Homo sapiens: one gene and its partners. Each later gene encodes a partner of the first gene's protein in a complex. Each region holds a gene or a part of one and is shown on either strand. Other genes may lie near its edges.

Region 1 (7,755 bases):
GCCCACTACCACGCCCGGCTAACTTCTTTCTTTTTTTTATTTTTAGTAAAGACGGGGGTTCACCAAGTTGGCCAGGCTGGTCTCGAGCTCCTGACCTCAGGTTTAATTGTTATACCCCCCGGGCCCTTAACAAAGCTGTAGTGGCCAGGCTAACCTGGGCAACATAGTAAGACCCTGGTCTCTACAAAAAATACAAAAATTAGCCGGACGTGGTGGGGCAGGGCCTGTGGTCCCAGCTACTTGGGAGGCTGAGGTGGGAGGCTCACCTGAGCCCAGAGAGCCGTGATCGTACCACTGCACTCCAGGCTGAGCAAGAGTGAGACGCAATCTCAAGGGGAGGTGGGGGGAAGGAAGCTGCAGTGATCTCTGCATGGATTGGTCGTGTGTCTGATTTCTTTTTATTGTTTGTTTGTTTGTTTATTTATTTATTTATTTATTTATTTATTTATTTGAGACGGACTCTCACTCTGTCGCCCAGGCTGGAGTGTAGTGGCGCGATCTCGGCTCACTGCAACTTCTGCCTCCCGGGTTCAAGAGATTCTCCTGCCTCAGCCTCCTGAGTAGCTCGGATTGCAGGCGCGCGCCACCACGCCCGGCTAATTTTTGTATTTCGAGTAGAGACGGCGTTTCACCACGTTGGTCAGGCTGCTCTCGAACTCCTGACCTCGTAATCCGCCTGCCTCAGACTCCCAAACTGATGGGATTAAAGGCGTGAGCCACCGCGTCCGGCCGTTCGTGTCTGATTTCTATATGTGCTGCCGAAGCGAGCACTCGTGTCTAATTTTTGATTTCCCCACACCACGCACGCTGGACTAGATCACCGGCTGGGCAAGGAAGGGGGTCTGCGTCCCTGCGGGGTCCTGGCAGCTCCCGCGCCAGGACTTTGTTGAATGAATGACTGAACTGAGCGGGCGCCGCGGGGCGGGGCGTCCCGAAGCGGACCTCAAGGCGGGCGGAGGCGAGAGCTCCGCCCCGGAAGGCGGGGGCGGGGGCGGGGCGGCGGCCGTGGGTCCCTGCCGGCCGGCGGCGGGCGCAGACAGCGGCGGGCGCAGGACGTGCACTATGGCTCGGGGCTCGCTGCGCCGGTTGCTGCGGCTCCTCGTGCTGGGGCTCTGGCTGGCGTTGCTGCGCTCCGTGGCCGGGGAGCAAGCGCCAGGTACGCGGGACTCCGGGGTCGGGGAACCCCGGGCCGGGGCTCGGGAGCCGGACTGGGTGTCTGGAGAACAGCGCCGAACTGGGGGAACAGGCGGATGTGGGGATCTGGGGTCAGGTGGCCTTCAAACAGCTCGCTCCCGGCTGTGGGAAGTTCCATCACTCTCCAAGCTTCATTCACAATCCGGGCCTCAGTTTCTCCCACCGTCCAATTGGGGTTGGGGGGGGTCTTCAGTTCCACAAGTCCGAAGTACTTCGAATGGAGAGAGAAAGTGAGTGAGGGCGGGATGTTTAGTCTAGGAAGGGGCACGCCCCCAGCCTGGTCCGTACAGGGTCTAACTAGCCCCAGTGATCGACGAGTTGGGGAGGCCGTCGAGAGGCACTAGGGTCTGTGCCCTCTATACCATGTGGGGTGCCCCCTTCCATCCGGTGACTTCAGTGCCCAGCTATGCGGGGGGAGGGACTGGGGTCGGGCCCGGTGCCCAGGAGTGAGTCACCCGCCGGCGGCAGGGGGGTTGTGGGGACCTGACCCCCCCCACCCCCAGCGTCCCGCGCTACGCCCTCCCTCCCGGAGCTGCCGTGTCCCGGTCGGGCCGTGCGGTCACCTGTGAGGAATGCGCGGGGAGGGCGCCGGTGACTCACGTTATTCGAGCCGGCCGACCCTGACCTCAGACCCCAGAATAGCCGAGTCCCGCCCCCAGCCTCTGACCCGAGGCCCCCTCCCCAGGCACCGCCCCCTGCTCCCGCGGCAGCTCCTGGAGCGCGGACCTGGACAAGTGCATGGACTGCGCGTCTTGCAGGGCGCGACCGCACAGCGACTTCTGCCTGGGCTGTGAGTGGGGGGCAGGGCCAGTGGCCAGCGGACCCCAGACTGGGAGGGAGGGTGGCTGGTGCGCAGAGCGGGGCCGAGAGCTTTGCATCTGGGAAATCATTCGGGAGGAGGTGGGAGCTGGGAGGGGGCTCCGGTCAGGGAGGAGGCCACGTTTGGGAGAAGGCAGAAGGCTCAGTCTTAGGGGGCGGGGCTGGCCTGGAGAGGGGCGAGGTCTGACTCCGAGTCCCGCCCCCAGGCGCTGCAGCACCTCCTGCCCCCTTCCGGCTGCTTTGGCCCATCCTTGGGGGCGCTCTGAGCCTGACCTTCGTGCTGGGGCTGCTTTCTGGCTTTTTGGTCTGGAGACGATGCCGCAGGAGAGAGAAGTTCACCAGTAAGTGTGCCCTGGCCTGCCCAGCCCTGTCAGCACTCGACCTTTTCTCTGCTGCTGACGACCCCACCTCTTATCTTGCAGCCCCCATAGAGGAGACCGGCGGAGAGGGCTGCCCAGCTGTGGCGCTGATCCAGTGACAATGTGCCCCCTGCCAGCCGGGGCTCGCCCACTCATCATTCATTCATCCATTCTAGAGCCAGTCTCTGCCTCCCAGACGCGGCGGGAGCCAAGCTCCTCCAACCACAAGGGGGGTGGGGGGCGGTGAATCACCTCTGAGGCCTGGGCCCAGGGTTCAGGGGAACCTTCCAAGGTGTCTGGTTGCCCTGCCTCTGGCTCCAGAACAGAAAGGGAGCCTCACGCTGGCTCACACAAAACAGCTGACACTGACTAAGGAACTGCAGCATTTGCACAGGGGAGGGGGGTGCCCTCCTTCCTAGAGGCCCTGGGGGCCAGGCTGACTTGGGGGGCAGACTTGACACTAGGCCCCACTCACTCAGATGTCCTGAAATTCCACCACGGGGGTCACCCTGGGGGGTTAGGGACCTATTTTTAACACTAGGGGGCTGGCCCACTAGGAGGGCTGGCCCTAAGATACAGACCCCCCCAACTCCCCAAAGCGGGGAGGAGATATTTATTTTGGGGAGAGTTTGGAGGGGAGGGAGAATTTATTAATAAAAGAATCTTTAACTTTAAATGGTTTGGAGAGGCAGTGATCCCCGACTGACTCCCCTGAGCTGGAGGGAGGGAGTGAGTCAGCCAGCCGCGGGGGCGGGGGTGAGGCTCTGACTCACACATTCTCAATGCCTGGAACTCAGCCGGCAAGGACCTGGCTGGCCCTAACAGTTTTCCAGGGAAGATCTTGAGGAGAAACCCCAGCATCCCGCGCCTCTGCCCTCTCCACCATCCCCAAAAGCCCCAGGTTCCAGACTGAAGCCTTCCTTTGCTCAGCAATCTTTATTCAGTTCTTCTTGGGGGTGGGATGCCTCCCTTCCCATGCTCCCACCCCTCCCATCCCAGAACTCCGTTGGGCTCAGTGTCCTCTGTTGAGGGAAGGTCTTGGTGCCCAGATGCCTACTCTGCAGGAGAGGGAGGAACCTTGTCCCTTTGCGGGAGTCGCTGGTCTCTTCTGTTGTGGGGAAGAAGGAAGGTGGGAGGGGCACTGTCCACCAGCACTCAGAGCTCCATTATGTCCCCAGCTGGGGTTGCAGGGTAGGGGGGACTGGGGGTGTCCCCCAGCCTCAGCAGACGGAGGGCCTCAGGGATGAGGCTGCCAGGATAGCGCCAGAGAAGCAGCTCAGAGCAAGGGCTCCTAGAAGAGGAAATGACTGTCAGGGCATGGAGCTGAGGCTGGCCTAGCTGAGCACCTCCCACCAGGTCCAGGTCCCCAGGGGCTCCTGGGTTCCCAGCACTTTCCAAAGAGCCAAGATGGGAAACAACCCAGAGGTCAGCTAGAGCTAAAAATGGCACGATGAGGCAGGGCCTGAGGTCAGCTGTGAGGACCGCCTGTGATTCTGCAGAAGGCCTGGCCAGTGGAGGAACCTACCTGAGTGGGGGCAGGGCTGGGGAGAAGGTCATGGGGGGGCTGCAGTAGGGGTGGTCATTGTGCAGGCTGAGTTGAGAGAAGTGGGTGGCCATGTTCTCCTCAGACAGAAACTGCTTGCGCAGAGGCTCCCTGGGGAGAGATGGCAGAGAGGCAGGCTGGGATACTGACACAGGAGGCAGCCTGTTGGGGACCAGAGGTGACAGAGATCTTGTTGGGAGTCCCTCCCTGCCCCCAAACTCACTGCTCCTCCTCCAGGCGCCGCTTGGTGCTCATGGGCACAGCTCCTCGGAGAGGGGAGCTGGGAAAAAAAGAGAGCCTGGTGCACCCCACCCTCTTGGCCCCTTCCCAAGGATCTGCCCGCCTAAGCCTGCAGCATCAGCCAGGAGCCCCAAGCCCATTCCTGTCTCAGCTGGTGCCGGTCCCCGCTCTCCTGGACCATCCAGCAGGGTACCTCGGAAGTCTCGACCCTCAGCCGCAGCCCCAGTCCCATCTCAGCTCACGCCTAAGCCCCGCCGATTCGCCCCACCCCGTATTCATCCTGCAGACCAGTCCTGAGCACCCAGCCAAAGCTCCTGCGGCCCTTGGTCAGGCCCACCCTGGTCCCCTACACGCACCTGGCGTCCAGGCCCCAAGTCACCCCCAAGGCGGCCCGCGGGAGGCGCTGGGCCCCTCCCTGGGGGCCTCGCTGCAAGGGCTGCTGCAGGATCATTGGGTTTTGGGGTCCTGCGGGTGGGATCTGGGCGACAGGGGAGGAGTCTCTGAGGGCGTGGCCAAGAGAGGATGGGCGTGGCTTTAGGCGGGCACAGCCGCGAGGTTCTGCGCGGGCGCGGAAGACGGGCGGCGCGTGGCGGAAGGCAGGCTTGCTCCTCGGGGTGGGGGAGGGTATCCGGCTTAAGGGGGCTGCGGTGGACACCACTTCTTAATGTCGGGGGTCTTCGCGGCGCTCACCTCGGCTCCTAGGGTTCGGGACGGTACGCACCAGCCACCTTCGCGCCGAAGGCGGTAGGGCGCCACGGAGAGGAACCGCTCTAGGCACGTAAGGCCTCGTGAGGTTGCGTCGCGCGCGGAGCACTCTGGGACTTGTAGTTCTGGAGATGGAGCGAGCTGTGCCGCTCGCGGTGCCTCTGGGTCAGGTGAGACGGACGTGGTGCGCGTTGCCTTCTGGGGTTTGTAGTTCACGCATGGCTGGGACGGGGCGGGCAGGGAATCGTGCCCTGAGCCCTGTTTTGCCTGGGCTATTTGTGGGACTCAGACTCTGACCAGGGGGGCGGGATAGTAACCCAGAAGTGCTTCAGGGGCTTAACGCAAGTCAGAGAGTAGGAATTATAAATCAGTACGTTTTTCTATGTTGGGGTAGTAGAGGTACTTTTTTTTTTTTTTTAATTTTCTAGTTCTTGCAAAGCACTTTTTTTTTTTTTTTGAGACAGAGTCTCACTCTGTCACCTAGGCTAGAGTGCAGTGGCGCGATCTCAGCTCACTGCAACCTCCGCCTCCCAGGTTCAAGCGATTCTCCTGCCTCAGCCCTCCAAGTAGCTGGGACTATAGGCGTGTGCCACCATGCCCAGCTAATTTTCGTGTTTTTAGTAGAGACAGGGTTTCACCATGTTGACCAGGCTGGTCTCGAACTCCTGACCTCAGGTAATCTGCCTGCCTTGGCTTCTCAAAGTGCTAGGATTACAGGTGTGAGCCACCACGCCCGGCCAAATTTTTTTTTTTTTTTTTTTTTTGAGATGGAATTTCACTCTTGTTGCCCAAGCTGGAGTGCAGTGGCTCCATCTGGGTTCACCGCAACCTCCGCCTCCCAGATTCAAGCAATTCTCCTGCCTCAGCCTCCTGAGTAGCTGAGATTACAGGCATGCGCCACCACTCCCAGCTAATTTTGCATTTTTAGCAGAGACAGGGTTTCTCCATGTTGGTCAGGCTGGTCTTGAACTCCTGACCTCAGGTGGTCCACCTGCCTTGGCCTGCCAAAGTGCTGGGATTACAGGCGTGAGCCACTGCGCCCGGCCCCACATTTTTAAATTTTTTTTGAGACAGAGTCTCACTATGTTGCCCAGGCTGCTCTCAAACTCCTGGCCTCCCAGAGCGCTGGATTACAGGCATGAACCACCACACCCGGCTTAAGCACTGAGTGACAGCCCCATGTAAAGCTCTTGTCTATACACTAGCTCATCTAATTGTGATGGAATCTTCTGTGAGCTCCATTTGTCAGTTGAGGAAGCTGGCAGGAGAGGCCTGGGTGCTTGCTCAGAGGTCCCTGAGGCATCACCTCAACTCTCCCCTTCTTCAGTGTCTTCTTGGAGCCACCCATGGGACTGCATGGGCAGGTGCTGGCTTGGGGCGGGGCCGCCTCAAAAGAAGGCTGAGAAGTCAGGACAGTGGGAGGCCTGGCAGGTTTTGGGGGAAGCAGGGAGGAATCTGTGGATGGGAGGTTTCATACGTCCCAGGCAGGCCTCATCCAGTCTTTCCCTGCAGACAGAGGTGTTCCAGGCCTTGCAGCGGCTCCATATGACCATCTTCTCCCAGAGCGTCTCACCATGTGGGAAGTTTCTGGCGGCTGGCAACAATTACGGGCAGATTGCCATCTTCAGGTACCCTCTGCCGCTGTCCACCCATTAGCCCTGGCACTTGGCCCTCATGGGACGGATGCCCCCGTTTCTGACTCCTGGGTCCCCTCCGCTGTCCCTGCAGCTTGTCCTCTGCTTTGAGCTCAGAAGCCAAAGAGGAAAGTAAGAAGCCGGTGGTGACTTTCCAAGGTGGGTATACCTGTGGAGTCTGGCTTCAGGACTTTGGGTGGGATTGGCTCACTCAGTTCTGCATTTCTCTTTAGCCCATGATGGGCCCGTCTATAGCATGGTTTCCACCGATCGACATCTGCTTAGTGCTGGGGATGGGGAGGTGAAGGCCTGGCTTTGGGCGGAGATGCTCAAGAAGGTAAGGAGTCGAGCTTGGGAAAGGGCTGGGGTGCCTGGACCCAGAGAGAGCCTTTGAGGTCACCTGGTATTTTCTCTTTTGAAGGGCTGTAAGGAGCTGTGGCGTCGTCAGCCTCCATACAGGTGAGCAGGGCCACGTGGATAGAGGGTGCATCAGGGTGAAGCCACTTCCTCACTGACCTTGCCTTTCCTTCCCCAGGACCAGCCTGGAAGTGCCTGAGATCAACGCTTTGCTGCTGGTCCCCAAGGTCTGAGCCCCATGTGACTGTTCTTGGTCCAAACTTTGATCCTTCACCCTCTGCCTATCCTGATTTGACATTGACTTTCTGCCTCATCCTGCTCCTCCACAGGAGAATTCCCTCATCCTGGCTGGGGGAGACTGTCAGTTGCACACTATGGACCTTGAAACTGGGACTTTCACGGTGAGCAGGGTCCTGGAGCCCTAGAGCAGGTCTAGGTCAGGGAGAGGCACTCTTCCTAGGTCTCCTCCTGACATCGCCCCTCTACATGCAGAGGGTCCTCCGGGGCCACACAGACTACATCCACTGCCTGGCACTGCGGGAAAGGAGCCCAGAGGTGCTGTCAGGTGGCGAGGATGGAGCTGTTCGACTTTGGGGTAAGCAGGTGGCTGGTTGGAGGGCAAGATGGCAGTGAAGGAGGCTGAGGCAAGTGGGGCACCACTCACAGTTCTTTCCCCGCAGACCTGCGCACAGCCAAGGAGGTCCAGACGATCGAGGTCTATAAGCACGAGGTGAGGGTGTGACCGTGGCCATTGTCCTCTTCTCCCCCAACTCCTTGAATTCTCCAGGTCTTCACCTCTTTCCCTCCTCCCCTCCCCATCCCAGGAGTGCTCGAGGCCCCACAATGGGCGCTGGATTGGATGTTTGGCAACTGATTCCGACTGGATGGTGAGCTGGGCAGACTG
Region 2 (7,000 bases), on another chromosome or scaffold:
GTGCTGGGATTACAGGCGTGAGCCACCACGCCCGGCCACTAAGGTTTTTTTAATCCCTTACTTTTTATCAAAATTTTATAACAAAGATTTGACTGGTTGAGAAGTTTTTTTGTTTTGGTGTTATATTTTTATGACTATAAATAGCCTTTCCTTTTATGTTCATCATTTTTACCAAGTTCAGTTGTCTTAGCCATATGTTGCAGATATAAATTTTGCCAAGAAGGTGATTCCTTCATCAGGTTTTGTCAATTAATAACCTTCATCGTGGGCAGTTTTAGTTCTGTTTTATTTATTTACTAATAGATTGAATCAATCTATTAGTAATAGTCCCTAAACACTTGCTAAAAGACTGAAAAGTTTTATTTTATTTTATTTTATTTTATTTTATTTATTTTTTTGAGACAGAGTCTCGCTCTGTCACCCAGGCTAGAGTGCAGTGGTGCAATCTTGGCTTATTGCCAGCTCCGTCTCCCGGGTTCACACCATTCTCCTGCCTCAGCCTCCCAAGTAGCTGGGACTATAGGCGCCCGCCACCATGCCCAGCTAATTTTTTTTTTTTTTTTGTATTTTTAGCAGAGACGGGGTTTCACCGTGTTAGCCAGGATGGTCTCGATCTCCTGACCTCATGATCCGCCCGTCTCGGCCTCTCAAAGTGCTGGGATTACAGGCGTGAGCCACTGTGCCTGGCCTGAAATGTTTTATTTGTTTGGTAGTCAGTTCTCCATTTGAGGTGGTGAAGGGGGCAAAGACCTTGGGGAACAGGGATACTCAGTGAGACACAGTAGGGAAGAGCTGGAAGCCTCCACTGTCCTAGCATGGAGTTCCTGAAGGCATGCTGGGGCCAAAACGCAGGACCGGCACGTGCTGCCCAAGTTGCTCCTGACGTTATCCATGGAAAGATGAAGGAGAACCCCCTTTGGTTCAGGGAAAGAATGGGCCTTGTCATCCTTTGTGATAAAATTACTACATTACCCTCCCACATTATCTCTTTTTTGCTTGTCACATTTAATGACAAACTGTGCCCGAACCATCCCAGGTGGGTGGCAGTGGCGTCACTATTTCTCTCCGCTTGTAGCTGTGGGTCTCCAGTGTATGTGATTGTATCTTTTTCTGGGAACATACAGGGGGCCTTTTCCTGTGATGAGCATAAGATTTGGTCAAAGTGAGATAGACATAGCACCAAAGCTATACACTTGTTCTCTCTGTAGCAGAAAGGAGTCTGTTCTGCTTTTATGAAAATTGAAATTATTTCTACTGATGGTGTCATGGGACTTTGCTCCCCTGAGGTAAGGCCTTAGGCACCATATAAATCTTGAAGGGATGAGTTTTTTAAAAATTAATGATTAAGAGTACTAGTCTGTTTGATCAGACAATATAAAGCCACCTCTAGCACTTACTAGCAGTGTGATCTTGAATAAGCCATATCTTTTAAAGCCTTGAGTTTTTCCTCTATAAAATGGAAATGATAATCCTCCCTCATAGGGTTGTAAGGATGCAATGACCTCAAGCATATAAACGGTCTGGCCCACAGAAAGCCTTCAATAAATGGTGGCATTGGTCATCAGTGAGACGTGGCATTACCATCCCCAAATGCCCAAGCCTATGTTGAAGAAAGATGTTGGCTGCATTCTCACTGCTTACTGTTTTTCCTTTTCTAGTGACTTGCTGTCTCCTGACTCAGTCCTGAGTTGCTTGTATCCTGGGGATCATGGAAAGAAAACTCCGAATCCAGCCAATCAGTATCAGTTTGATAAAGTTGGGTGAGTCAGCAGTTTCCTCCTCTCCGAGCTCTCTACTTCTGAGTTTCTCTGGTGGCTCAAGCTAAATGCTGGAGACCTGTTAGGGCCAGAGGTGACCCAGAGGATAGGAAAGACCACAGGGTAGAAGGAAATGTTTGTTCTTTCTTGCTTACAAGGCAAAGGGAGATCACAAAAAGGGTGGAAGGATCAAAACTCGGAAACATGCTGGGTGTGGTGGCTCACGCCTGTAATCCCAGCACTTTGGAAGGCCAAAGCAGGTGGATTCCTTGAGCTCAGGAGTTCGATACCAGCCTGGGCAACATGGCAAAACCCTGTCTCTACAAGAAATACAAAAATTAGCCAGGCATGGTGGTGGGCATTTGTAGTCCCAGCTACTGGGGAGGTTGAGGTGGGAGAATTGCATGAGCCCAGGAGGTTGAGGCTGCAGTGAGCCATGGTCATGTCGCTGTACTCCAGCCTGGGGGCAACAGAGCCAGACCCTGTCTCAAAACAAAAACAAAAAGAAAAACAAAAAAAACCCTCTGGAAGCATAATAATACGTGATACAATAAAAATGTTTGACATTTTAATTATCCGAGGATTAATTTTTAAAAGATTTTCTAAATTGGTAGACCAATAAAGACATTAGTACACTGCCTTTGTATTTGATATTTGCTTATAAGTTGAAGGCTGCAAGAAGAAAAGGAAAAAGAGGAAAGTGAATGTGAGAGAGATGAAATTCACAGTAGGGAACTGACAAAGTTGAAGGGCTTTGCCAGCAGCCTGGCTGTGAACATGGCCAAACCTGCAGGACTGGATGGTTTGTGGGGCATGGGAGGGTGGGAGGAGGCTGTATCCTGGGACCACAGCAGAAATGACTTACAGCACAATTTTATTTATCTTCTTTTCTGCAGCATCCTGACTTTGAGCGACTATGTACTTGAGCTAGGTCACCCCTATTTGTGGGTGCAGAAGCTGGGTGGCCTCCACTTCCCCAAAGAGCAGCCCCAGGTCTGTACACTGATCTCATCTAGTTGGCTGAGGAGCTTACCTCTTCTCTTCCTGTATAGACTCTAGAAAGGCCAGGCCAGGTGCGGTGGCTCATGCCTATAATCCTTGTACTTTGGGAGGCTGAGGCAGGTGGATCACCTGAGGTCAGGAGTTTGAGACCAGCCTGGCCAACATGATGAAACCCCATCTCTACTAAAAATACAAAAAATTAGCTGGGTGTGGTGGCACGTTCCTATAATCCCAGCTATTCAGGAGGCTGAGGCAGGAGAATCACTTGAACCAGGGAGGCAGAGGTTGCGGTGAGCTGAGATCATGCCACTGCACTCCAGCCTGGGCAACAAGAGCAAAACTCCGTCTCAAAAAAAAAAAAAAAGGCCTGTCATGGCCTTTGGAGTTTTGAACTGGCAGAATGTGTCCCCTCAGGGCTGTGACCTGTCTTCTATCCACTCAGGACACTAAAATGTCTTAGACTTACAAGAGTTTACGTACCTTTTGCATTTTCTCTGAGCCTAGTAGCCTTTTAGACCCAGGCAACTTGAGTCCTTGCTCTGGGACTCATGTCTGCAGGCTCTGCTGCCCTTGTTCTTGTGTGCAAGTACCAAATATGAGGCATGAGCAGAAATCCAGGGGGCCTGGCCCCTTAGCAGAAGCCTGCCTTTCCTCAGGAGTTGGACACAGCTTCTCAAGAACGCAGCATATTGTGTTGTTTCTGCCAGGACTCAGCGTCTGGCCTGTCATAGCAGATAAACCTTGCCATGTCTAAAGGGTACCCATCTTGGGGCATGGATAATCCAGGGTGCCGCAGACAGGCAGGTCCCAGGAGAGAGATGGTGCCCGGAGGAAGGGATGGGGGAGCACACGTGTATGTGTCTCATTGTCACTCACAGCAAACAGTGATTGCTGACCACTCGCTGAGCGCCAGCCACATGGAGACCACCATGAAACTTCTGAAGACCAGGGTGCAGTCCCGCCTGGCCCTCCACAAACAGTTTGCATCCCTAGGTAAGCTGATGATGGGGCAGTGGTTTAAGAGTCACTCAGACAACACACGGACAACAACAACTTAGCCTTTCACTCAAAACTTGAATCCTGATGACAAATACAAGACCTGGATTCCTGGCTTTACGGAGTGGGCATCTTGGCAGAGCCACTGGGGAGAGCTCCAGGCCTGTCCAGGCAGAGGACCGAGCTCCCCCTTAGAGCCATCAGTGCTGTCCTGCCTCACAGAGGAGGCCCAGAGCCATTGGGTGGCACAAGTTTGTGGACTGGTCGGGGCAGTTCATCCTAGGTCATGCATTGCAGATTTTGATGTGCATTCGACACATATTTAGTGAGATCCTGATTCATGCCAGGCACTGAGCATAGTGCTGGGGGAAGAACTGAGCACAGTGAACCCCTGCCCCTGGCTCTGTGGCTCACAGTCAGCTTTTTGAATATAGCTATCCAGGGAGCAACTCGCATATCCCTTCCCCAAGGCCTACTGACCTCGTGTTCCCCAGGGTGAGGCTGAGCCTATGTTTTCTTCTAAGCTCCCAAGTGATAATGATGAGCCACTGACTTAGGTGGTGGCATTTGGGGGCTTCTTTTAGTTTATTCACTCAGTAAGTGGTTGTCAAATGCTTACCATGTGGCAGGGGGATGGGGTCAAGATTTTTCTGACCTAAAAGAGTCTCTGGGACAGGCGCAGTGGCTCTTGCCTGTAATCACAGCACTTTGGGAGGCCAAGGCAGACAGATCACTTGAGGTCAGGAGTTCAAGACCAGCCTGCCAACATGGTGAAACTCCGTCTCTACTAAAAATACAAAAATTAGCTGGGCATGGTGGTGTGCACTTGTATTCCCAGCTACTCAGGAGGCTGAAGCAGGAGAATTGCTTGAACCTGAGAGGCGGAAGTTGCAGTGAGCTGAGATCGCATCACTGTATTCCAGCCTGGGCAACAAAGCGAGACTCCATCTCAAAATAAAAAGTAAAAAATAAAAAAGAGTCTCTGTCAGGAAAGGCATTGGGTTTCCAGGACACATCTGGAGACCACTCCCCACCAGTTCTTAGACTCCACATGGCTGCCGATCTCTCCAGAGCACTGATGTTTGTCCATCGGGCCGTGCTCCCCATCAGCACTGCTGAGTTTGTTTTGTCCCAAGGTAGGGAACTTGTCATTCTGGACAGTACTTACTGTGTTGGCATATTTGCTTATTTAAATGCCAGCAGGAATTTACCCTGGAGCAGTTATCTGGCTCTTCTCCCTGACACACAACACTTCAGTTGTTTCCTCCATCAAGGTCAGCTATGAAAACACAGGCCTCTATGCTATTTGATCTAATTAACAGTCACTGCTGCAGGGGCACCCTCCCTAGTTCTGACTGTAAGGGTTTTTCTTTGGCAGGCTATCATTTGCATTAAAGAGAAAGCACCATAAGTGCTGGCACTGGATCTGGCCACAAGCACATAGCACTGGGTGAAGGTCAGGTTGACATGCTTGCATTCCTGGCACGTGTTGACCTGGGTACTTCCTGAGTACCAGGTATACCAGGATAGCTGGCCGGGCCATCTGAGCCCTTCAGAGAGCCCCAGGAGGATGCTAGTTACCCATCTGTGGCACCTGATTTCTACCTGTGACGTCATCTGTCTTGTTCTCTTTTAGAACATGGCATTGTGCCAGTTACCAGTGATTGCCAGTACCTCTTCCCTGCCAAGGTTGTCTCTCGCCTGGTGAAATGGGTGACAGTTGCCCATGAGGATTACATGGTAGGTGAAGGAGTGACAAGTTACCCTTACTGTCCTGAGGATTGCAGGACCATGTCACCTTTCAGCTCCTGCCACCTCACTGGAAGAGCAGGGGGTTTAACCAGAGGAGCCAGCAGTTCACCTCTTGTCTGTGGTACCTCTTCTAGGAGCTGCACTTCACCAAAGACATTGTGGATGCGGGACTGGCTGGGGACACCAATCTCTACTACATGGCGCTCATCGAAAGGGGCACAGGTAATTGCTCTGCTGATTACAGGGGTTCTAGACAAAGGGCGCTGCCAAGAATCAAACACTCTCCGGGGCTGCCCAAAGCAGAAGATCCTGGAGTCCTGCAAGGACTTAACAGATAATAATGATCGTGAGAGCCTGTTCAGCAAGGACTCATTCTGCAACACAGTCACACACACGCTGTGTATCACTGAACCCTCACTGCAGTCCTAGGGGTGGTGCTTTCATTTCTATTTTACATGGGAGGAAATTCAGGCTTAGTTGCAAGCCCAGTCTGAGCGCTGAGCCTGAGCTCTTTGCTCCTTCCTTCACCGCTTTCTAGTACCGGACATCTCCTCCTTCTCCCTCTTCATAACAGGGCTGAGGTGTCACCCTCAGGTTGTAAAGGGCAGGGCCACAGGGCCTCGCTCCCTCTTCTGCAGTCCCTGCACTCACTTTAGAGGCATTGAAAGCTCTGATTCTTCATACCTCTTCTGGCATCTGACTCTGCCAGGGCTCCCTGCTGAAGTCCTGGGATGTTGTGTTTGGGCCGTTGTGCTGTTGTCCCACCCAAGCCGCAGCAAGCCTGGCACTGCCCGTGGGATCTGACACCCTCAAGACTTGGTGCTGAGCTGAGGAAGTTGTCTGTAGTTCTAAGACAGTTCCAGAACTGTAAGGAAAGGCTGAACTCTTTGGTATCAGAGTTTCTGTCCTCACTACCCCACTTTCTTCTCTTTCTATTCTTCATGTCTTTTAAAAAAAAAATTCTGAAGAAACTGAATATTTCAGATACAGTTGAGGCCTCCCTATCCCACTTTATTCCCTTTCTCCTAATAAGTGACCACTATTTGGATTTTATGCATTTGCTTTCCATCCTTTCCCCGCTACACCCTTTTTTTTTTTTTTTTCAGTAGAGATAAGGTCTTGCTTTGTCGCCCAGGCTGGAGTGCAGTGGCACGATCATAGCTCACTGCAATCTTGAACTCCTGGACTCAAGCAATCCTTCTTCCACCTTAGCTCCCTGAGTAGCTGCGACTACAGGTATGCTACCATGCTCAGCTAAGATTTTTTGTTTTTGTTTTTGTTTTTTTGTAGAGGCATGTTCTTACTATGTTGCCAAGCCTGGTCTCAAACTCCTGGCCTTTCTTCCAAAGTGCTGGGATTGTAGGCATCAGCCATCATGCCTGGCCTCTCCCCTTTCAAAATTTAATTTAACTTATTTTTTGAGACAGGGTCTTGCTCTGTTGCCTAGACTGGAGTACAGTGGCTCAGTCATGGCTCACTGCAGCCTCAACTGC
Region 3 (7,000 bases), on another chromosome or scaffold:
GGTTCAAGCAATTCCCTTGCCTCAGCCTCTTGAGTAGCTGGGACTACAGGCACGTGCCACCACACCTGGCTAATTTTTTATATTTTAGTAGAGACGGGGTTTCACCATATTGGCCAGGATGGTCTCAATCTCTTGACCTCATGATCCACCCGCCTCGGCCTCCCAAAGTGCTGGGATTACAGTCGTGAGCCACCGCACCCACAGCCCTGTTGAACTTTAAATTACATGCTGTACAGAAAATTATCAGTTACTTCTTTATCAACTCATGTATTTCCTGTAAATGTATATTCCAATGTGTTTTTCCCTCATTCTAAAACATGGGAGCTTGTGGATCACTGGTTTTTCACATGATTAAGTCAGTTTTTTGCTCACATAGTGACAGCAATTTTAAAGAAGATGTCAACTAAAGGGTATGAAAAGTTGATCTATGGTACTTACCGGTAATTCCTTGGCTAGCTTTATTACCATATTTTCAAGATATTCTGGTAAACTTTTAAACTGCTGGTTGGTTGGCTGGAAGAAGTGAGGGCTTCTCCGTGCTAATAGTCTCAGGGCTCTCCAACCATAATTTGAATTGTTCACAGCCCTATAAAAAGAGGTGTCAGGCTTGTAATTTATAGCTTTGTATTTCTGTATTCCCTTCTGCTCAGTTCTGCCATGTGTAATTCTGTATTTAAGGTAAATAGCTCAAAGTGCCATTCTTTGTATTTGAATCTTATTCCTAAAGAACTTTTCAGTATGTAGTCCACTGATAATAACAAACCAATAGATGCACATGTAACTAATCACAGGAACCAACAATGCCTGAAGAGGCAGGCTCATATGCAGCAAACACATTTTCAAAGTTTCCGTTCATTTTGTTTAATTTTAACAAGTCAACAAGTGTGTGCAGTACTGGCTGGATGCAGTACGTATACAACAGGAATCATCCATCTAGCTATTTGGAATCCATGAACTGTTCCCTAATGAAGTATAACAATGATCAGGGTGGTATACCATCAGGTGAGAAACAAACTGCAGAGAAATTCTAAAGATAATGCGTCAGAAATATGCAATGCTGCGGAAGAAACCAAACCACAAATTTATTCCATTTAAGAGTTTTGGATTGGAAGTCTCTTCCTCCCCTAAGAATAGCAATTTGGTTTATTTGGTCACCTCTTATAAATAAGCATATGTTACCTTTAGGATGTGCAGGTACCACTGAAGACTTAACAAAAACTACCCATAGACACTGGGGACTCTTCCCAAGTTAACACCTGCTGTGAGGCTTTGCCTAAACAGTTAAGAGCCTTCCTCTCTGACATATCTGTTTAGACAATTTGATTATTTTAGGCATTTTCAAAATTCACTGTCAATTATACACATCATTTTTCTTATTCTCCACAAAACCCTCTTTGGAGATAATAATTTGAACTATCACTTTAGGAATGAGTCCACCTAGTCTTATGTAACAGTGATAAATTAATATTCTTTCAATCGACAAACACTTTTGAGCCAGGCACTCAGTAGCTGTGGAGAGTACCTGAGGCACAGTAAGGCAGGCATTGCTAGTGATAAACACACAAGGTATAAGACAATTTCATAAGGATGAGGAAAACTTGAGAAATGAGAAAGTGGTAAGTGCCACCTTCTCATTTGGATAGTGGTAAGTGCCGTGAAATAAAAACCACGAGAATGCAAAAGAGGAGACCAGGGAGGGGAAGAGCTTCCCAGCCAGGGGGACTTTAAGCCACGGCAACCTTGGGGAAAAAGTGGTTCAAGCAAGTGAGACAGTAAAGTGTGAAGGTCCTGACAGGAAAGGGAAAGACAGGACCAAGAGGCCTGCTGTGGTTAAAGCAGAGGGGAGGCATGGCCACACAGGAGAGTATGAGCCAGACCAAGGAGGTCTTTTAGGCCCTGGGAAGGAGTTTGGAATAGGCACTCACTGGGAGATTTTAAGCAGATTAGACTTGGACAATTATTTTAAAGATCACTGGCTGATGCATGGAGCACTGACCACAACTAGAGAGATTAGTTAAGAGGTCACAGTAATTAACAACTCTGGTCACAGGGTCACACTAGTCACAAATACTGAGTGCTAACCACATGCCCTGTAGGGTTCAAAGTGCACTGTCTTATTTAATCCTCAGAATAACCCTGTGAAATGGGTACTGTTACTATTTAACAGATGAGGAAAGGGAACTGGCGGTTTAATAATTAAATTAGCCTTAGTTGCCTAGTAAGTAAGTGGTAGAGGGAATCGAACCTATGCATTCTGACCAGAGGCCTCTTGCCTTTAAACCACTACTCTTCAATTCCTATTTAAAGCCATGAGACTGCGGTGTCACCCAGAAGGTTCTAGATAAAGAGGCTAAGACCAATTCCTGATGTTACTCCAAAATTTGAGTTAGGCAGAGGATGAGGAGGCTGAAATGGAATGTGAGGTGGAGTGGGCAACGAGGGCAAAGGGCAAACAGAAGAACCATGGATTTGGATTCTCATGGACGCCAAGAGAAGAAAACATTAAGGGGAACAGGATAGGTTAACAGCTGCTGTGAGATACTGTGCTTTGAAGGGTAGAGAGAACAGAACTAATAGTTGGAGAGAAATGGGGATCAGGGGGAGTTTTTTTTTTCTTATATTTTGAAACAAGGGTGATTCCAAGTCATGCTTAGTTAACAGGAATAATCCTTGAAATCAGGATGTGTACTAACAAGAACTTGGAACATAAACTCACCTAAGAGAAAAAGCACTATTCTATCTACTGCCTCTCTTAAGAGGCTTTCTAGTATACACACAATTCCTAAGGAAGAAACAAATTGAAGAAAATTAAAAGGAGCTAATGAGGAGCATACTTACTTATATTCATTTTCCACCATATTTTCAGGGTCTGCCTGTTCAATGGCTTCTTCAAAGAATTCCTCCAAAGTGGGCATGTGTTCCCTGAGCGGTACAAAAATAACCAGTGAGGATGGCATATATTCTTAATAATAAATACTCATGAAGTGGTGGCAGGACAAGATTGTGGGCATGTGTTCCCTGAGCAGTACAAAAATAACCAGTGAGGATGGCATATACTCTTAATAATAAATACTCATAAAGTGGTGGCAGGACAAGATTGTGGGCATGTGTTCCCTGAGCGGTACAAAATAACCAGTGAGGATGGCATATACTCTTAATAATAAATACTCATAAAGTGGTGGCAGGACAAGATTGTGGGCATGTGTTCCCTGAGCGGTACAAAATAACCAGTGAGGATGGCATATACTCTTAATAATAAATACTCATAAAGTGGTGGCAGGACAAGATTGTGGGCATGTGTTCCCTGAGCGGTACAAAATAACCAGTGAGGATGGCATATACTCTTAATAATAAATACTCATAAAGTGGTGGCAGGACAAGATTGTGGGCATGTGTTCCCTGAGCGGTACAAAATAACCAGTGAGGATGGCATATACTCTTAATAATAAATACTCATAAAGTGGTGGCAGGACAAGATTCTAATGGCCCCATACTTTTAGTTACAGTTTTGATTACGTGGGAACTCCAGACTTTTAAGGAAGTAAAACCGTCAAAACTAAATTCAAAAAGGACAATAAATAAAGGGGATAGTCTAATACTAAATATTACATAGTATTTACTACATATAATATTATATACTTTAATTACACACTATAATATATAAATATGTTGCTATTCAAAGAGGGCAGCCAGGGTATTTTATAGCATTTGAATTTTACCAGCAAATAAACTTTTACATTAAGTCCCTATCCACGAATTATTTTTTCTTTAAACCAGAATTAAACCAAAACTAATAATCAGACCATAATACGATTTCAAGGGTTTAACCTTTAGCTCTTATTTAAATTGTTACCATGGTAGCATGGTTGATTTTTAAAATGCATCTTTCTTGAATTTGTTTTTAGAAATAAAATTTTGATACAGGGTCAAGCAAAGAAATGAGGTCTCAGGATCAGAAGACATCTTCTAGAGTAAAACTAGGAAAATGGGCTCTTTTAAGAAAACTATCCCAATATCCATTCATTTTCTAATGCTACAGATACTATATTCCATTTTATGAACATGCCCCAAGTTATCCATGTCCTACACAGAGATATTTGTCTTCCCACTCTTTGCTCTGACAATGTTAAATGAACATTCTTGCACCTGTCTCCTTGTAGATGAACTGATTTCTTTAGGCACTGGGCCTTCAAACTTCCACTGCAACCCACAATAAGAAATTCATTTTACACTGCAACCCAGTACACACATATATGCAAGTATATGTACAGATATATATAAGTAAAGCTAATGCTTCACAAAAGTATATTTCCTATTTCATTTAAAAAATGCTAGTTGAAATTACTAAATTGACTTTACAAACCACCAATGATTCTCAAACTTAGTTTTTAAAAACACTATTCTGATCAACACACCTACTAGTGGGGCACAGACATCTTTAACATTCAGATAGAGTGACTGTGCCATCAGACTCCTACCAGCAGCACTGGCAAATTATTTTTATCCATAATTCTTATAAAATCTGGGTATTTTTAAATTACTGAATCTCTTAGCTGGAAACTGCTTGCTGTAGTTTTTAACTGTACTTCCAGTTACTAGTGAAGTTCCCCGTCTTCTCAGAGGTTTATTAAGGTTTCTACTTCTGAATCTGACTATTCATTTGTACATTTTTCTACTGGGTTGATTCACTCTCACAGATTTGGCAGGAATCAATCATGTTAGAATTTTATCTATTTTTCCTGGTTTTTGTTTTTATTGATCTTCTCTTTTGATTTTGTTATCTTCTCTATTGTTTGTTGTCTATTTTACTGATTTCTAATCTTATTTTACTTTCTACTTCTATGAGTTTACTTTTCTTCTGAATGACTCTCAGTGTCAGACTCTTATTAGCTTGGTTTTTAGATTTCATTCTTTTTGAAAGTGTAAACACTTAAGGCTATACATTTCTCTTCTGTGTTCTACTGAGTTAGATCTCAAAAGTCTGAACATGTAGTGTTTTCATTATTATTTAGCTCTACATTTTCCAATTTCCATTATGACTTCTTTGATTCAAGGGTTATTTAGAAGTGTGTTTAAAGGAGTTGTAAGTATTTTTGCTTTTGCTATTCACACATAATTTACAAAAACTTGTGGTTTCTGTAAGACCAAGCCTGTTAATTATTTTGTTAAATTCTAAATGTATTACACTAAGTTTTTTCCACCAAATTTATTAAATTCTGAGAAAGGTCTGTCAAAATCCTACTAGATGGTAGGTTTTCTGGGTGGTGGTGGATGGTGAAAACTGACCCTGGGTCAACTTCTCATTCTAATTTTGTCAAATTTTTGAGAACACATTCTTAGAAAATAAAGTTTAAAATGTGTATATTTCTATTTTTTCCTTTTATCTTTATGCAATGATTGCCTTTATTTTTAATAATGCTTTCTGCTTTTAAGCCTTTTCTGCCTGATATCAATATAACTATGCCTTTTAAAAATTACGTCTTTTAAAAGTTCTTTCAGTTTCAACCTTTCCATATCTTTATTTTTAAGGTATATTTCTTATAAACATATAGATGGATCTTTTTTTTTTTTTTTTTTTTGAGACGGAGTCTCGCTCTGTCGCCCAGGCTGGAGTGCAGTGGTGCGATCTCGACTCACTGCAAGCTCCGCCTCCCAGGTTCACGCCATTCTCCTGCCTCAGCCTCCCAAGTAGCTGAGACTACAGGCGCCTGCCACCACACTTGGCTAATTTTTTGTATTTTTAGTAGAGACGGGGTTTCACCGTGTTAGCCACGATGGTCTCTATCTCCTGACCTCATGATCCGCCCGCCTTGGCCTCCCAAAGTGCTGGGATTACAGGTATGAGCCACCGCGCCTGGCCGATAGATCTTTAAAATATAACACCAATTTCTGTCTTTGAGCCAGAAAGTCCATTTCCATTTATATTTGAATTTAACCATACTGTTTTGTACTTTCTGTTGTGTTTTCTGTGCTTTTTTCCTCCTCTCCTACCTTCTAATTTACTTGCTTAAATTTTCTGTATTTACTTTTACCCCTCAATTTATTTAAAAATTACATATTCCATTTCTTTCACATACTTTACAAGCATGTTTGACTTAAACCATAACATTCTTTAATTCTGACCACCCCTTCTTGTCTTACATGTCACTTTTATCAAGTTTACCTTTTAAAATAACCCTAAATAATAATTATTACTATTTTATAACAGTGAATTCTTGATAAGATTTATTCAGATTTCTTCATGTTTACCAAAGTGTCTACACAGTAATCCTTTCTGCAATTTACTCCTTTCTGGGTTCAGTTTCCTTAAGACAGCTTTTTTACTGGGGACTGTTGATAATTTCTCATAGTTTTAGTCAATCACTCAACCACAACTGTTTAACTTGTTACAGAATTTTTTAGTTGAAATGTTGAAAAAGCAAGTAATACTTCTAGAAATGAGAAAATATAGTCATTGAATTTACAAAACGAGCAGGTTTAACAGCAGTCTGGACATAGGGAAAGTAAGAATTACTGGATTAATGATTAAGAAATCACCCAGAAAGCAATACAGAAGGAGCAAGAGTTGGAAACGATGAGTTAATGATAGTTGAGGAGGTCCAGCAAACATCTAATGGCAGAAAGAAATAATAGAGAATGTGAAAGACATTTTCAAGCACTCATCCCACTGTCTTCTGATTTTTGTTGTTCTTGAAGTCAACTGTTAGTTTAACTTTGCTCCTTTGTAGGTTGTCTGTTTTTTCTCTCTGGTGACTTTATTATCATGTACAGAGATATGGATTTATTTGGTTTATCCTCCTTAAGTATTATACTTCTTGAACCTATGAATTCATGCCTATTCTTAATAATTAACTCAATTATTGCCTCTTTCCCATTCTCTATTATTTCTTTCTGCCATCAGATGTTTGCTGGACCTCCTCAACTATCATTAAGTCATCGTTTCTAACTCTGCTCCTTCTGTATTGCTTTCTGGGTGATTTCTTAATCATTAATTAACCCA

The links.
Region 2: the proteins of THOC6 (region 1) and THOC5 are in contact, whole or in part, in a cryo-EM structure (PDB 7APK), measured with the Homo sapiens proteins. Residues at the interface, in NP_001334633.1 of Homo sapiens: Val5, Pro6, Ala8, Val9, Pro10, Leu11, Gly12, Gln13, Val16, Phe17, Leu20, Gln21, Leu23, His24, Met25, Thr26, Phe28, Tyr45, Tyr80, Asp94, Glu125, Val126, Pro127, Glu128, Asn130, Gly146, Tyr170, His172, Glu188, Trp222; in NP_001002877.1 of Homo sapiens: Pro406, Gly407, Asp538, Ile539, Val540, Asp541, Ala542, Gly543, Leu544, Ser575, Ile576, Ser593, Asp596, Arg599, Glu602, Gly603, Asn606, Val607, Tyr609, Arg660, Phe662, Arg663, Gly664, Pro665, Ser666, Arg667.
Region 3: the proteins of THOC6 (region 1) and THOC1 are in contact, whole or in part, in a cryo-EM structure (PDB 7APK), measured with the Homo sapiens proteins. Residues at the interface, in NP_001334633.1 of Homo sapiens: Leu57, Ser58, Ser59, Glu60, Pro312, Glu313, Lys315, Thr330, Asn331, Gly333, Tyr334, Ala336; in NP_005122.2 of Homo sapiens: Ser227, Pro229, Ile230, Asp231, Tyr232, Leu234, Arg236, Val270, Ser273, Tyr274, Asp309, Leu312.

Annotation. Positions count from the first base shown.
Region 1 is NC_000016.10:3,019,336-3,027,090, forward strand, and holds the start of THOC6 (THO complex subunit 6), read left to right. Parts: upstream 1-4,699; 5' UTR 4,700-4,991; coding exon 4,992-5,030; intron 5,031-6,372; coding exon 6,373-6,488; intron 6,489-6,588; coding exon 6,589-6,653; intron 6,654-6,727; coding exon 6,728-6,831; intron 6,832-6,915; coding exon 6,916-6,953; intron 6,954-7,029; coding exon 7,030-7,078; intron 7,079-7,180; coding exon 7,181-7,252; intron 7,253-7,343; coding exon 7,344-7,446; intron 7,447-7,531; coding exon 7,532-7,581; intron 7,582-7,675; coding exon 7,676-7,738; intron 7,739-7,755. Other genes in the region: TNFRSF12A (tumor necrosis factor receptor superfamily member 12A precursor), read left to right, coding at 1,063-1,156, 1,880-1,984, 2,220-2,354, 2,436-2,491; HCFC1R1 (host cell factor C1 regulator 1), read right to left, coding at 3,528-3,663, 3,898-4,026, 4,139-4,195, 4,512-4,606. UniProt on the Homo sapiens protein: Component of the THO subcomplex of the TREX complex which is thought to couple mRNA transcription, processing and nuclear export, and which specifically associates with spliced mRNA and not with unspliced pre-mRNA.
Region 2 is NC_000022.11:29,515,758-29,522,757, reverse strand, and holds part of THOC5 (THO complex subunit 5), read left to right. Parts: intron 1-1,658; coding exon 1,659-1,760; intron 1,761-2,653; coding exon 2,654-2,750; intron 2,751-3,637; coding exon 3,638-3,752; intron 3,753-5,391; coding exon 5,392-5,495; intron 5,496-5,641; coding exon 5,642-5,729; intron 5,730-7,000. UniProt on the Homo sapiens protein: Component of the THO subcomplex of the TREX complex which is thought to couple mRNA transcription, processing and nuclear export, and which specifically associates with spliced mRNA and not with unspliced pre-mRNA.
Region 3 is NC_000018.10:216,048-223,047, forward strand, and holds part of THOC1 (THO complex subunit 1), read right to left. Parts: intron 2,923-7,000; coding exon 2,839-2,922; intron 587-2,838; coding exon 439-586; intron 1-438. UniProt on the Homo sapiens protein: Component of the THO subcomplex of the TREX complex which is thought to couple mRNA transcription, processing and nuclear export, and which specifically associates with spliced mRNA and not with unspliced pre-mRNA.